2 separate regions of the Homo sapiens genome follow, and region 1 is linked to region 2. The links come from fine-mapping of genetic effects on gene expression. A gene starts in region 2. The other region holds a variant in brackets. All regions are shown on one strand. Distances are between the middles of the regions. Region 1 holds the start of CYP1B1-AS1 (CYP1B1 antisense RNA 1). Region 2 holds the start of CYP1B1 (cytochrome P450 family 1 subfamily B member 1).

The links.
Region 1: its variant is fine-mapped to the expression of CYP1B1 in whole blood (TOPMed, PIP 0.99).

Annotation. Positions count from the first base shown.
Region 1 is chr2:38,124,060-38,132,388 of GRCh38, reverse strand. It overlaps CYP1B1-AS1 (CYP1B1 antisense RNA 1), which reads right to left and starts at 1,284. Exons shown (of 3, transcript NR_027252.1): 1 at 1,199-1,284; 2 at 775-878. The region is part of intron 2 of LOC107985871 (a long non-coding RNA gene); the gene reads left to right. The variant C/G (reference allele first, on the strand shown) is at 3,506.
Region 2 is chr2:38,072,572-38,080,854 of GRCh38, reverse strand. It overlaps CYP1B1 (cytochrome P450 family 1 subfamily B member 1), which reads left to right and starts at 4,704. Exons shown (of 3, transcript NM_000104.4): 1 at 4,704-5,075; 2 at 5,466-6,509. The coding sequence starts at 5,467. RefSeq lists silencers at 3,589-3,708, 4,619-4,708, cis regulatory regions at 3,752-3,781, 4,702-4,709, an enhancer at 3,683-3,881 and a promoter at 3,348-4,723.

The sequences.
Region 1 (8,329 bases), 52 kb before region 2:
CACATTTGGTGATACAATTAAGAAACATGATATTGGAAAGTTGCTGACCAAGTGCCACCTAGCATTCCTTCTCTTGTACTAGCCACATGCCCACTCCTCATGGCTACTGCTAGCCTCATCTAAGAACTGGGGACCCAGCCTGGCAGGATAAGTGTGGCTCCATGCTTTAAGCCAGAGAATTTAGGAGACTATGATCTGTTGCTGTGTCAATCTGAAAGCTGAGGGATCTGAAGGGTACGTGGTACCCATTCTCTGACTCTCACTCCCAAAAGTCCTTTTCTCCCTGGGTCAACATACGGTTGGTGCCCAAGGCCCTTCCTAGGAATTGGAAGCCAACAGTGACACAAAGCACTTAGGAGGCACACAACCACAAATGTGTGAGGTTTGCCTTCCCATATTTTCTGGACCCATGTTCAAGCCTGGAACTCTCTAGTTCATAAAGGGTTTTACTCTTGCAGGAGTCAGCAAACTATGGCCTGTGGGTGGAGGGCCAGATGGGGCCATGCTCATTCATTTACATACTGTCTAATGGTTGCTCAAAAATCACAGAGTTGAGTAACTAAGACAGACTGGAAGGCCCACACAGGCAAAAAATGTACTATCCGGACATCCACATAAACAGTTTGCAGGCCACTGATTTAGAGTAAGACCAGTTCTCCTGGGGGCAATGGATTGTCTTTCTTTGCTTTCAGCCTGACCAATGCCCGTGGGTAGGGATGGAGAGGGAGCCCATCTCTCTAGTTGATTCTGATGAGAAGAACCAGGGTGACCCACCTGGAATGTGAGCCTCTGATCTTCCAGGCATCTGGCATGCCCATTTCTTCCACAGAGCAGGATAGAAGCTCCTCCCAGCAGGGGGTCTTGACTATTTGAGACCACTGTAAAAGAAAAGTAAGAACAAGTGATTCACGTTTGTGTTTCCTGTAAAAAGAACATGGTTGTCAGTGCTATTAACCTGGTTACCACTGACTTTGACGCAGATACAGCCGGTTCATGTTTCAGAACTTCATGAAACAGGCCTGTGCCTTCAATCAGAGGCAGCCCAAAAGACAAAATTGCCAACACTTTCTATTTGCAGTGGCCCAGGAATTATCAAATAACCTTAGTTCCTATTAAACTCCTGCCTATTTACCATTGCCTAAACCTGGAGGCAAAATCTAAATCCAAACCATCACAGGTAATCTCCAATCTCACATACTTTTCCAAAAGATTCATGTGTTAGGAAAGGATGATTGATGGCTCAAAAGTCACCAGTGCCGATTCTTGTGTTAGCAACCATAGTTGAAGTCAATGCTTAGAACTGGCGTGGGAAGATGTTCTCAAAACTGCAGCTTTGTGCCTTTGTGGTTATGTAACAGCCTCCTCCATACAGAGGATTACTACGAATGGGTGCTTCCTGCTGTTGTCTCATGTTGATGAGGCATTTTATATTCTTGAGGAATATTCTGGAGGGAGGAGGTTGGTGAAGACTGGTAAAGTAGAGAAGAGAGACATTTTAACAAAATATTCATATTTATCTGGTCTCTAACATGAAAGCTGCATATTTTGTGGTATATTAATTAAGTCATTTTTATAAGTTATAAATGATACTAGTACAGTAAGTCCTCACTTAATGTCATCGATAGGTTCTTGGAATCTGTAACTTTAAGCAAAACAACATGCAGCAGGTTCATAAATAATGTCACTTCCTTTAACGTTTTGTTATAACGTTGATGAGAAAAAAACGCTTTTGTTACATGTCATTTTGCTTAAAGCTATAGTTTCCAAGAAACTGTCGATGACATTAAGTGAGAACTTACTGTATAATAACATTATGTTAGAGTTTAGTGGGCTCCCAAAAGATCTTCTCTTACCAGGTAGACAGTTCTCTCTTTTAGAGATAAAAGAATTGAGCCTCACAGAGGCCGTATGAGCAGTCAGAGTCCCACTATGTTCCCACCTACCATTCACCACTAAATCCTTAGTCTGGCTGCAGAAAACAGAAAAGATTTATTTCCTCAAAAGTCAACTTCTTTAGACTACATTGACCCTAATAGAATTCAGAAAGCAACTCTTAGACTCAAATTTTTCTGCTTATTGCCACCACCACACTCCCCCAGTCATATGACAAGAGTCGTTTGCGGTAGGAAGCAAAACCAGAAATGCACTTGAGCAGTCTTTCTATGTCCTTCCTTGCCTCACCCCCATTGGGGGCCTGCATGATGGTGAGTGGCCACATAAACAGTCCCTACGTCTCCAGGAGTTCCCTTGGCCATGGCTGCTGGAATGACTCATCCTTCTCCATCTGTAGCCTAGGCTTTCCCCTTCTCCTTAATTTCCATGAGGGAGCAGTCTTAGATCAGAGCCTCCCCAAGGGGACAGGACCACAGCCCTCCCTAAAAGGTCCTGGATCTGGTATAAATCTAACCATGGGAGAAAACAGAATTCAGTTACAGACAACATCAAGGGCAAACTTGAAGGGGAGCAAAAATCACAATATGGGTGTGGGAACTGGACCACAGAGTTACAGTGGTCATTTCCTCCCCACCACATCTTGTGAACTTTACCTTGCCCACTGCCCCAAGGGGCAACCATGTGGCTCATGGCCCTGGCCACCAATAACTGAATTGGGAGTAGACCCACTTTAAACATGACCCACTTTAACCAATCAGACATCTTTATCTAGAACTTGGAGTTGGGACACAGAAAGCCTGAGGGTGTTTTTTTATCTGTGAGTGCTAGACTCACAAGATTCTGTGGGCTCAAGGACTGAGTTAGACAGTCATTTAAGGTCATGTGGTAACAGAGTATGCTTGACGAAGGGGGAGGATGGAGCAGAGACAAAGATAACTGAGAGAAAGGGAGGAGGAAGGGCAGCTCCAGACTCTAGCCCTTCAGTGATCCAGGTGCAATTCTTCAAACTGGGTTTCACAGTATTCCGTTATCACTGTGCAAGTAATCCCCATTTACTTAAGTTACTCTGAGTGGGTTTCTGGCCCTAGCAACTGAGTGCTCCCCCACCATAAGATGAAATGGCTAGGCTGGAGCTGGGAGGCAGAGGCAGTGAGTGAGGAAGCTAGACGGATTTTTCCAGAGAAAGTAAGTCCTAGAGTCCAAGCATATGCACGCTATCCACACGTTCCAAATTTTAGGAGACAGCCCTGTTTCAAATGTGCCAGCTTGCCCAAATTTCTGTTTAGGCAATTGTGGTATATCTGTTTATATATATAATTTTAGCATTGGGAAGGCCCTCCTAAGTAAGACACAAACCTGGAAACCACAAAGAAAAGAAAAGATTGACAGATTAGACTACCTAGCCCTAAATTTTAAATTGCCTTTGACAAAAGCCACCATCAGCAAAATTAAAAGTGAAGGGGCAGCTTGGGATCTAAGTGACAGCTGGAGAGCCCCTGCACACTACAGACTCCCTCCTGCTGCAGATCAGACTTCTGGACAAGTCCAGCCCTGGCTTTGTGGCTGTCATGACTACTGAAAATGTCGTAACTGTTGGCAGCAAGAACATGAC[C/G]TCTTGCTGTCCCAAAATGAGGAAATGAAAGGGAAAAAAGAGGAAATGGGATGAAATGAAAAATGGATGCAAACAACAGAGAGTGAGCAAGAAACATTGAGAAAGATGAAAAAAATGAGCTGTTTATCTCTCCTCTGCTTCTGGGCCCTCTCCTTTGTGCTACCCTAGTGATGTGCTCTATTGGTCCATTCTTACGTTGCCATAAAGAACTGGGTAATTTATAAAGAAAAGATGGTTAGTCAGCTCATGGTTCCTGTGGGCTGTACAGGCTTCTGCTTCTGGGGGAGGCCTCAGGAAACTTACAATCGTGGCACAAGGTGAAGGGGAAACAGGCCATTAGCAGCAGGAGAGGGGCAAAGGAGATGCTACACACTTTCAAACAAGCAGATTTCCTAAGAAATTGGGGGAATGGCGCTAAACCATTAAAAACCACCCCTGTGATCCAATCACCTCCCACCAAACCCTCCCTCCAGCACTCGGGATCACAGTTCAACATGAGATTTGGGTAGGGACACAAAGCCCCACCATACCATTCCACCCTTGGCCCCTCCCAAATCTCATATCCTCTCACATTGTAAAATATAACCATCCCTTCTCAACAGTCCCCCAAAGTCTTAACTCATTCCAGAATTAACTCAAAAGTCCAAGTCCAAAGTCTAATCGGAGACAAGGCAAGTCCCTTCCACCTATGAGCCTGTAAAATCAAAAACAAGTTAGCTACTTCCAAGATACAATGGGAGTACAGGCATTGGGTAAATACTCCATTTCCAGAAAGGAGAACTCAGCCACAACACAGGGGCTACAGGCCCCATGCAAGTCCGAAACCCAGCAGGACGGTCATTAAATCTTAAAGCTCCAAAATAATCTTGACTCTGTGTCTCACATCCAGGCCATGCTGATGGAGGGGGTGGGCTTCCAAGGCCTTGGGCAGCTCTGCAGGGTACATCCCCTGTGGCTGCTTTCATGGACTGATGTGAGTGCCTGTGGATTTTCCAGGTACACAGTGCAAGCTGGGGTCTGGAGGAGGATGACCTTCTTTTCAGAGCTCCACTAGGCAGTGCCCCAGTGGGGACTCTGTGTGGGGGCTCCAACCCCACATTTCCCCTTTGCACTGCCCTACTAGATATTCTCCATGAAGGCTCTGCCCCTGCAGGAGACTCCCGCCTGGACATCCAGGCCTTTCCATACATCCTCTGAAATCTAGGTGGAGGTTCCCAAGCCTCAACTCTCATCCTCTTTGTACTTGCAGGCTTAACACCACATGGAAGCCACCAAGGCTTGTGGCTTGCACTCTCTGGAGCAGCAGTCTGAGAAGTATCTGGGGCCCTTTTGGCCACAGCTGTAGCTGGAGCAAGTGGGATGCAGGGTGCCATGCCCCAAGGCTGCACAAAGCAGCAGGGCCCTGGGCCTGGCCCCATGAAACCATTTTTCCCTCCTAGGCCTCCAGGCCTGTGATGGGAGGGGCTGCCCCAAAGGTCTCTGGAATGCCTCATAGGCATTTTCCCCATTGTCTTGACTGCTAATATTTGGCTCCTCTTTACTTATGCAAATTTCTGTATTGGGCTTGAATTTCTCCCCAGAAAATGGGTTTTTCTTTTCTACCACATGGCTAGGCTGCAAATTTTCCTATCTATCTTTTATGCTTTGCCTCCCTTTTCAGGTCATTTCTTTGTTTATGCAGATGAGTTAGGCTTTTGGAAGCAGCCAGGCCACATCTTGAGCACTTTGATGCTTAGAAATTTCTTCTGCCAGATACCCTAAATCATCTCTCAAGGTCAAAGTTCAACAGATCCCTAGAGCAGGAGCACAATGCCACCAGTCTCTTTGCTAAAGCATAGCAAGAGTGACCTTTACTCCAGTTCTCAATAAGTTCCTCATCTCCATCTGAGACCTCATCAGCCTGGCCATCTCTGCCCATATCACTATGAGCATTTTGGTCAAAACCATTAAACAAGTCTCTAGGAAATTCCAAACATTTCCTCATCTTCCTGTCTTCTTCTGAGCTTTCCAAACTGTTCCACCCTCTGCCCATTATCCAGTTCCAAAGCTGCTTCCACATTTTCAGGTATCTTTGTAGTAATGCCTCACTTCTCTGGTACCAATTTTCTTCATTAGTCTGTTCTTGCATTGCTATAAAAACTACCTGAGACTGGGTAATTTATAAAGAAAGATGTTTAATCAGCTCACAGTTCTGTGGGCTGTAAAGGCTTCTGCTTTTGGGGAGGCCTCAGGAAACTTACAATCATGGCAGAAGGTAAAGGAGAAACAGGCACACCTTCACATGGCCAGCAGGAGAAGGGCAGCGGAAGTGCTACATGCTTTCAAACAACCAGATCGCCTGAGAACTCTATCATAAGGCAGCACTGTGGGGATGGTGCTAAACCATTAGAAATCACCCTCATGATCAAATCACCTCTCACCAAGCCCCACGTCCAACACTCAAGATTACAATTTAACACGGGATTTGGGTGGGGACCCAGAGCCAAACCATACTATGCACTAACTCATTTAAGCTGTTGTTATCTTAATCATGGGCTCACTGTAGAATGGGAGTGGTAGGAAGAAACATTAAGTGAGTGGTCATAATGGTGGCTTAGAATTCAAACCCATTCCATGTGACCCCTCACCCATGCTTGGCAAATTAAATCCATGATAATCCAAAGGGTTTCAAAATCGATTTTTTTTAGGTCTAACCGTTTCCTTCCCATTCTTATCATTTCCTCTTCCCTTAAAGCAAATTCCCTTTATTCTTACCACCCACTAGAATGGAGACTTGAAATTAGGTTCTTTCAGCTTGCCAAATGATAAACAGCTCTCTCAAATTAAGCCACATCTCATCCAGAGAGAAGGCAATAAAAATAGTGATTTATGTGGTTGAGAGTACAGTGAGACGTTTTTATAGCATCACAGATGGTTTTCCAAATTGCAGAGCAGCTTTATTTCTTTCTGCATATCTCAGTTTCTCAGTCCACAATTTGAAAATAATAAAGCTGCCCTCTTCCTACTTCTTGGGTGAATTGGTTAAATCATGAAAATCTATAAATAAAAGCACTTTGAATCCTAGAGAGAAGAGTCAAATAATAAAATAATCCCATTTTTCATCCATATGATGAAATTATATAAGGTCCCCCATATAATGGGGGACCTTATATAATGAGAAGGCTAGGCATATTGCTATGTTTGTGGGCAAATGATCTGGCCCAGAGAACACCTGACTCCTAGGAGTGTCAAGCTGGGGAAGAGGACTCAAGTATATACACAGTACCGTTATTTCAGATGTATCTTTGATAGCTCTAAAGTAACTACTGGAAACACCTATAGGGTGGCATGATAAGATAACTGAGATTTACATTTATACTTTACTACTCCCATTGGTTTTAAAAAACAAGACTGCTTGAGTTTGGTTTTCATCATGGCGGCTTCAGTCTTAGCCCAGGCTCTCCACATACTCTCTGTTCCAACTTCGACCCTAGGTGTACATGAGATCCATTCTCAGCACCTCTGGGCCCATTCCCTTCTACCCAAGCCAGGAGTGCTGGGTGCTGAGATTTAACAATCCAGATCAGAAGCGGCACCATGCAGTGTTGAGAACACAGGCCCTGGAGCAAGTCTGCTGCGTGTGAATCCCAACTCGCCTCTCTGACCTGGCATATCTCCTTATCCGTGATATGGGCATGGCACTAACATACCTACTCATAGGACTCTGGGGACAGTTAAACGAGACAGGGTCCATAAAGCACTTAGCTCACTGCCTGGTACAATAAATGGTGACTACTTTTTATAGGCAATTGTGAGAAACATGGTGAATGTGGGCAGGGTAAAATAGTTGGATTGGTGCTTCTTCTGCAGGTGGCATTCAACTCTTTTTGTGTTTGTTTGTATTTATTTTTCTTATAGCAAATTTCCTTTTTTAAACTGTGACCAAACAAATAGAATGATTGCTATGGTTTTACAATTTGCATGGCTGAATGAATATACCTTTGATAGTTTTTTTTATCATGTTTCTAATTGTTAGAAAAAAATTCTTTTTTCCTCTTCTGGGATTTCAGGGCATTACATTGGAAAATAGGTATTAAACTGATATGGGACAGAGGCCATGGCATATATCCTACAAAATCTGTATCTACACTCTTATATTATACTTACTTGCCCATATCTTTGAACTTGGGGCCAATCATAAGATCCTACATTCTAGTTACCAGAAAAAGAACATAGTAATTGAGTATGTAATTGAATATTGTTGGCTGGGAGTGGTGGCTCACGCCTGTAATCCCAGCCCTTTGGGAGGCCAAGGTGGGCGGATTACTTGAGGCCAGGAGTTTGAGACCAGCCTGACTAACATGGTAAAATCCTGTCTCTACTAAAAATTCAAAAAAATTAGTCGGGGGTGTTGGTGTGTGCCTGAAATCCCAGCTACATGGGAGGCCGAGGCAGGAGAATTGCTTGAACCTGGGAGGTGGAGATTTCAGTGAGCCAAGATCGCACGACTGCACTCCAGCCTGGGCAACAGAGCAAGACTCTGTCTCAAAAAAAAAAAAAAAAAAAAAAAAAAAGTTTATGGGTGAGTATTGAGCTAAGTGCATTATCCCATTCAATCCCCAATCTTATGAAGCAAATACTATCATTAGCCCTATTTTACAGATGTGGAAAGTGAGCCTTAGAGAAGTAAGTAATTGCCATAAGTCACACATCTGAGAAATAATGAAGTGAAAATTTGAACCAAAAGCATCTGGATCCAGAGCCTATGTTTTAGGAACTTGCTGTGGCTTTGATGCATCAGAATGTGGGAGCTGCAGGCCTGCGTGGACTAGTCTTGGACTCTTA
Region 2 (8,283 bases):
TTTATTGCTCACACAAAGCCTGTTTGGTGGTCTCTTCACACGGACGCGCATGAAATGTATAATGCTTTGTCAGCTCCAAATCATACCCTCAACTTTCCATTTTACATCTCCGAAATCTGGATGTATCTTAGAGTCGATGATGCAATTATAATTGGTAGCTTCCTTTCTTTATGTTAGTACATAAAAATAAGGGTGCATCCTACAAATGATGGCTTCTGAGATTAGATAAAATACCTTTCTATTAGCTCTGTGGTTCTCTGCCTGTGTATTGCCAGGAGGAAGGAAGTGGAGCATTTCAGGTGAGGCACAGGGTTTTGGTATCAATTCCTAAGATTCCTTTCATGGTCCAGCCCCTGGTGTGCATTATCCTACAGTTCCTCCCTCTATCGCACCCTCAGCCACTTGGTGTGTCTCCTTATTTCTGCTCCTCTTGCCTACCAGCATGTGCCTGATGACTGAATCCTGCCCACCCAAATGTCAAGAGCCTACCAGAGATGGCTTATTCTCCTCCACTCTCCTCAGTGCATGTGGGTATGTGTGTTTGGAGATGACTGGAAAAGCACAGTGGCTACCCATTAAACTGACTTAGGGGTCACACTAGAGAGGAAGACCATGAAGAAAACTGAGTTCCAGCCTGACAGCAGAAGGGCAGAGCTTTCTGGGCTACTGGCTCTAAGGGCAATGCATATATCTGCTGATTTAAAATAATAATAACAATAATGGCTTTGGGTTTCCTTAGGTTATCCTCCAACCCAAAGAAACCAGTGGGCAGACATGTATACATGGAGTGGACTGGGTCAGCTCTTTGGCTTCCTAGCATGTTCTGCCATCTCTTTTTTTCTGATGACAGAACAAGCCCTTGCCCACAGGGTAAAAACCTGATGCCAGCCTGGCCCCCTGGAGTCCTTCTAGGACCCTGGAAGAGAGCTGTTCTCTTTCTCTTTGTTTTGTTAATTTTAAGCTGCTTCCTTGCCATGCAAAGAGAGAAAGCCCAAGCAAAGACCAGCATAGGCAGAGAGCCGGTAGAGCGGCCTGGGTCCTTGTATCCTGTGAAGCATCACGGTTATCCTTCTCTGCACATGGGCCAGTGCATTCCTGTTCTGCTTAAACAAGCTTAAGTTGTTCCTTCGAGTCAATACAAGATAAGATATTTTAAACCTCTCTCTACTTTAAACTATCCCTCTAGCTTAGCTGTTCTTTTTGAAAGTTATTTGCAACAAACAATTCAAGTTTGAGATTTGGGAGGGCAGAATGCCCATATTCTGTGTTGATTGAAAGGAGATTCCTGGGCCTTAGGTCCCTGCTTTGGTTGAGAAGTTGTGATGATAATTAAAGAGCCTGCGTAGATTCTCACTAGAGGCAGGGCTCTGCCTTGAGTTGGGTCGGGGTGCCAACAGGCTGCTCTGGATTTATCCGAAGTCCTTATCAGGGTACCGGATGGGGCATTCAATGAAGTTTGCACCATAAAGCCCTAAGAACTCCAGGCTTGAAGATTCTCTGCAAAAAGTGTTACCATAGCCAGTCATTTTGGTTTGCCATAACCGATAAGGGCTTATCTTTCTGACAGCACTTACCAACCTAGTTCCTCTGATTTTTGAGTCATGTCCTAGAAAAAGAGCTGAGCCCAAGGAACTACAGCTTGGAGGATATATCTGATCTATCTGCGATGGCAGGAAAGCATGCATCTAGTTGATCTAAAAACTAGATGGCATTATTGAGGAGTTGGACAGGCGGTCTTAGGAACAACCTCGTTTTATACTTTTTAAAAATAGGAATTTACTTAAAGGCAACTTCCATCTGCTCTCATTCTGGCAGAGGTATTGTGATAAAGGCTTTCAGGAATGTCAACAGCTCAGGATTGGCATTAGCTCATAGATAATTCCCGTCTACTAAATTAAAGTCTATGAGAGATTGATGCATGCACCAGAGTCTTGAATTATTAGGCAAGGATCTTGCTAAAGCTGGACATGGGAAGGTTGCTATGAAACTCATTTCAAAGGCTGTGTAGGCCAACTCACCTCTGGGAAACCAACGCTTATTATTAAACCAATGCAACTGCTCAAAAACTAAAACTCCATCACTATCTAAGTTCCCCATCATGGTGTGTGAAATCATTTCCAGAAAACTCTTCAAAAGATACCGAATAAAAGGCATCACAGGCCGGGCACGGTGGCTCATGCCTGTAATCCCAGCACTTTGGGAGGCCCAGGCTGGTGGATCACCTGAGGTCAGGAGTTTGAGACCAGCCTGGCCAGCATGGTGAAACCCCATCTCTACTAGAAAAATACAAAAATTAGCCGGGTGTGGTGGTGCGCACCTGTAATCCCAGCTACTTGGGAGGCTGAGCCAGGAGAACCTGGCAGGCGGAGGTTGCAGTGAGCCGAGATCACGCCATTGCACTGCAGCCCAGGTGACAGAGTGAGACTCCATCTCAAAAAAAATAAATAAATAAAAATAAAAATAAAAAAAGCCATCACGAAAAGACATTTCTTTATCAGGTCAGCAAATTGATTGCTGGTTTCAATCTCTCAAGAAGTCAGATTCTTTTCAGACACTCCTTTGTGTTTCTTTACAATGTAATCAGTCATTCCAGGGTCAGCTATGAGGCACACTCCCCTGGCCTCCCTCATAAGCAATTTAATTGCAAAGGGTTAGCATACTATTTCTTCTCTGCTATTCTCAGAATTCTCAATTATGAAAACAAAAACAATAATTAAAAAGTTCTTCCAGCTGATTTTTTTTTTTTTTTTTTTTTTGAGACAGAGTCTCACTTAAACTCTGCTGCCCAGGCTGTAGTGCAGTGGTGCAATCTCTGCTCACTGCAACCTCTGCCTCCCACGTTCAACCAATTCTGCTGCCTTCCCCCCTGATCCCCGAGTAGCTGGGATTACAGGTGTGCACCACCACGTCCGGCTAACTTTTGTATTTTTAGTAGATGGGGTTTCGCCATGTTGGCCAGGCTGGTCTCGAACTCCTGACCTCAAGTGATCCGCCCGCTTAAGCCTCCCAAAGTGCTGGGATTACAGGCGTGAGCCACTGCGCCTAGCCCCACGTGCATTTTTTTTTTTAAGGGAGGCAGGAAAGAAGGCATTTGGGCCTCTTATCTGCAATTTTCTTCCGTGTAAACTTATGTGAAGGATCTGGAGTGGGACTTGGTGGCTTCAAGCCCTGGCTCCACTTCTTGATGGCTGCGCGACCTGGGTTAAGTCACGCAACCTCTCTGAACCCTAGTTTATTCATCTGTAAACAGGTCAATAATAGCACGAGATTCGCAGCGCGAGTGGAGCTCAAAGTGCAGGGTTGTCCCTGGTGAACCTATCACTTTTATATTTATCCTTTGATGAAGCCAGTACAATTCCTACCTGGTTAACCAGATACATCCCACCTCTTCCCTCGAGTTCGCCCTTCCCCCCGCCTCGTGAAGTCCTTGTTCTCTTAGCTGTCTTGAAAATCCTATGCATCAGCATGTAGGAAAGGGCGCGCCAGGCGGGGGAAGCCACCCCCGCCCAAGCGCCTCCGGCTTCCCTTATAAAGGGAGGGCCCCCTTCGCGACCGCAAGCGCGCCCAGGAAGACCACAGAGCCGCCGGTGCGCAGCGAGGTGGCGATACGCGCCCGGGCTCGGCCTGCGGGTGGTGGCCCAAGCGTCCGCCTCGCTGGCCTGGCAGGCGCGACTGTGCGTGCGCAGCCGAGGGTGGTGGCGGCCGGCACCCCACGCCAAGGGTGGTGGTGGCCGGCACCCCACCCTCGGCCGCCGCCTCCGCGTGTCAGGTGCCGTGAGAAGCGCGGGAGGAGCGGCCGCAGGCAGCGCCCAGGGATATGACTGGAGCCGACTTTCCAGAAGCGGCGCACGCAAAGCCCAGCTCCGCACGCAAAGGGGAGGCGACAGCAGAAACTTCAACCCGATAAAGTTCGCCGGAGCGCGGAGATTCGCCTCCTCCTGCCACTCTCCGCCCCGCTCGGGTCCCGCCCCGCTAGCTCCCCCAGGCCCCCCCAGTCGCCCCAGCTTGGCTCCCCGCCCTGCGCCAACGGCTTCCATCGCAGCCTGGGCGGCCCCGCGCCCACCAGCGGGCGGCGCCACCTGGAGTGGCCTCTACGCGGGAAATCTCAGGGCCAGCTGCGCCCCAGGAGCCTTTGTGTGCCCAAGCACTGTCGGGGCCCCGGGGCGGGGGAGCGGCTACTTTTAGGGATTCCTGATCTCGCCGCAAGAACTGGAAAAAATTTAGCATGCCAAAGAGCCTCCACTGAGGTGGCAATTTGTTTGCGAGAACCTAAGATAAAATTTAAACAACCAACCAGGGGCGCTGTGAGGCAAACCGCTGCCACTACACTGGCTTTCCGGGAAGCAAGCTCAAGTCGCGGAGAGGGAAGGGAGGTCGTGCGCTCGGGGCGGGGCGCGCTCCCAAGTCGAGCGCAGCGGCCGGGGCAGGTTGTACCGAGCGTGGTTCTGGGGACACCGTGCGGCCTCGATTGGAGGTGGCTGTGATGAAGCGCGGTTACCGCACAATGGAAACGTGGGCACCTCCGCTCCCATGAAAGCCTGCTGGTAGAGCTCCGAGGCCGGCCGGTGCGCCTGGACGGGAGTCCGGGTCAAAGCGGCCTGGTGTGCGGCGCGCCCCGCCCCCCGCAGGCCCCGCCCTGCCAGGTCGCGCTGCCCTCCTTCTACCCAGTCCTTAAAACCCGGAGGAGCGGGATGGCGCGCTTTGACTCTGGAGTGGGAGTGGGAGCGAGCGCTTCTGCGACTCCAGTTGTGAGAGCCGCAAGGGCATGGGAATTGACGCCACTCACCGACCCCCAGTCTCAATCTCAACGCTGTGAGGAAACCTCGACTTTGCCAGGTCCCCAAGGGCAGCGGGGCTCGGCGAGCGAGGCACCCTTCTCCGTCCCCATCCCAATCCAAGCGCTCCTGGCACTGACGACGCCAAGAGACTCGAGTGGGAGTTAAAGCTTCCAGTGAGGGCAGCAGGTGTCCAGGCCGGGCCTGCGGGTTCCTGTTGACGTCTTGCCCTAGGCAAAGGTCCCAGTTCCTTCTCGGAGCCGGCTGTCCCGCGCCACTGGAAACCGCACCTCCCCGCAGGTCAGTCTGTCTGCCGAGGCGCTGCCCGGCGACCTCTTCAGATGGATTATTACAGGTAGCGGGTGGCGTGGTAGGTACTTTAAAGGAAATCAAGCGCCACCGCCTCGATGCCCGCAGCGTTGTCCCCAGATTGCAGGAACCGTTACGCGCCTTGCGGGGAGGGGAAGGGTTTGGCGCTGGGTTACAGCGAGGTGGAAACACGCCCCTTCTCTTCTCCAAGGGAGAGTGGGTTGGGGATGGGAAGGGGCGTCTTCGGCCATTTCTCCAGAGAGTCAGCTCCGACCTCTCCACCCAACGGCACTCAGTCCCCAGAGGCTGGGGTAGGGGCGTGGGGCGCCCGCTCCTGTCTCTGCACCCCTGAGTGTCACGCCTTCTCCTCTCTGTCCCCAGCATGGGCACCAGCCTCAGCCCGAACGACCCTTGGCCGCTAAACCCGCTGTCCATCCAGCAGACCACGCTCCTGCTACTCCTGTCGGTGCTGGCCACTGTGCATGTGGGCCAGCGGCTGCTGAGGCAACGGAGGCGGCAGCTCCGGTCCGCGCCCCCGGGCCCGTTTGCGTGGCCACTGATCGGAAACGCGGCGGCGGTGGGCCAGGCGGCTCACCTCTCGTTCGCTCGCCTGGCGCGGCGCTACGGCGACGTTTTCCAGATCCGCCTGGGCAGCTGCCCCATAGTGGTGCTGAATGGCGAGCGCGCCATCCACCAGGCCCTGGTGCAGCAGGGCTCGGCCTTCGCCGACCGGCCGGCCTTCGCCTCCTTCCGTGTGGTGTCCGGCGGCCGCAGCATGGCTTTCGGCCACTACTCGGAGCACTGGAAGGTGCAGCGGCGCGCAGCCCACAGCATGATGCGCAACTTCTTCACGCGCCAGCCGCGCAGCCGCCAAGTCCTCGAGGGCCACGTGCTGAGCGAGGCGCGCGAGCTGGTGGCGCTGCTGGTGCGCGGCAGCGCGGACGGCGCCTTCCTCGACCCGAGGCCGCTGACCGTCGTGGCCGTGGCCAACGTCATGAGTGCCGTGTGTTTCGGCTGCCGCTACAGCCACGACGACCCCGAGTTCCGTGAGCTGCTCAGCCACAACGAAGAGTTCGGGCGCACGGTGGGCGCGGGCAGCCTGGTGGACGTGATGCCCTGGCTGCAGTACTTCCCCAACCCGGTGCGCACCGTTTTCCGCGAATTCGAGCAGCTCAACCGCAACTTCAGCAACTTCATCCTGGACAAGTTCTTGAGGCACTGCGAAAGCCTTCGGCCCGGGGCCGCCCCCCGCGACATGATGGACGCCTTTATCCTCTCTGCGGAAAAGAAGGCGGCCGGGGACTCGCACGGTGGTGGCGCGCGGCTGGATTTGGAGAACGTACCGGCCACTATCACTGACATCTTCGGCGCCAGCCAGGACACCCTGTCCACCGCGCTGCAGTGGCTGCTCCTCCTCTTCACCAGGTAAAGCCTCTGGGAGGCGTGGGCCAGGTCTTTTCTCCTCTGAAAAAGGCGGAGTAGAGACAGAATATGCTGAGTTTGCAAGCAGGGCCCCGGGTTTGGGGTTTCGCTCCAGGTCCCCACCCCTCAAAACCAAGATCGCGTCGGTAAAGGGACTCACAGTGAGGGCTGCGACACGCGCACGCGCCCCACCCAGCGGTGCCCCGACCCCTCCGGTCTCCTATCTTGTCTCTATCGTCCCCTCCCCTGCTTGCGAGTGAGAACACATTTGCAAAGACCCCTCCACCCCCCGGAAAAACAAGAGTTTTTAAATGCTTGGAGATGAGCCCTGATATCTCTCTCCCTGGCGCATTACAATCAGAACTGGAATAGTTCCGAAAGAAAAGGTAATGTCATAAATATGTTAAACACAGCAGCCTCTCCTAGGCTAGTCCTCGGCGTGCATCCGAGGCCGCCCAGCCCTGGCGCTAAAAGCGGGCCGCCCGTCAGGGCTTTGTTCCAGGCCAAGGAAGCCCATGGAGGCCGGGCCAGCCGACAGGTAACCCGCACAGAAACTTTCAGAAGGCGGCCACAACTAGCGGGCAGCGCTAGGTTTATAAAACCTCCGCGCTAGGAGTTTGAGAAATGCCGGGGTAGAAGACAAGAAGCAGTCACTTTTACGAAAGCAGAGTAGCATTCAGAAAGGCAGATGGGATATCCAGGAGGCGCCTGCAGACGTTTCTGGCCCCTGCGCTTGGCTCAGTTAGCGGACCCCCTGATGCCCACGTTGGTCTCTACTAAGCACGGATTCAACAGGTCCCTGGTGTCGGGTTGCCAGATTTGGCAAAAGAAAAGTAAGTTTTACACGGGAATACTCACACTAAAAGATTAGCCCTTGTTGATCTGAAATCCATATTTAACTGGGCGGCCTGTAGTATTTACTGTGGAAACACTATCCCTAGGGGCAAATGTTTCGCAAGGCAAATTTTGATTGCCGAAGAGACCAGAAATCCTGGTTTTGTGTCATTTCTTGGAGCACAAGTGAGCAGTTGGAGATGCTGAATCTGCAGGCGCCACAGAAAGGTGTTTGGAAGGCAGAGAATGACTCTTTCCTTATTAAAATCCACTGCAATCTATATTTCCTTAGATACTGTACAGCTACCTTCACAAATTAAAAGTTTCTGTATACTTAAAATGGCTTTTTAGTATTAAAATCATAGAAACACCCATGGTGGGTGAGGGAGAGGCAGAAATCGAATAAAGAAAAGTCAACCAGAGATCAGGGAAAAGGAAATCCCGGAATAGGTTCCATAGGTTTTTGTGCATCCGCAGATAGGCATTTTAACTTTTGAAACGGCCTTTGTTTTTCATTAGAACCACAATAGTTCTCCGAGTACTCCAATTAGGCGGCAAAAAGAAATAAAACAATTTGGAGGTCACTTTCAATTCAATATGCTGATACTTTTTTTTTCCTTTTTAGTGAAAAGACGTATGACAGGGCTTGGCAAATTACACGATCTGTTTTTGTATATACGTTTTATTGACGCAGTCATGCCCATTCATTTATACATTGTCGATGGCTGCGTTCACTCTACAACACAAGGCAGAGCAGAGTAGTGCAACAAAGAGGGTTTGGTCCACAAAGTCTAAAATAGATACTCTCTGGCTCTCCCCACCATACATGTTTCTATGAAAAAAGTTGGCAGACTCCTGCAATATAATGTTGAAGAAGCGATTCTAAAAATAACTCCACTTCATCACATACGTGTATACATTTTTTTTCGGAGTTGCAAACAAT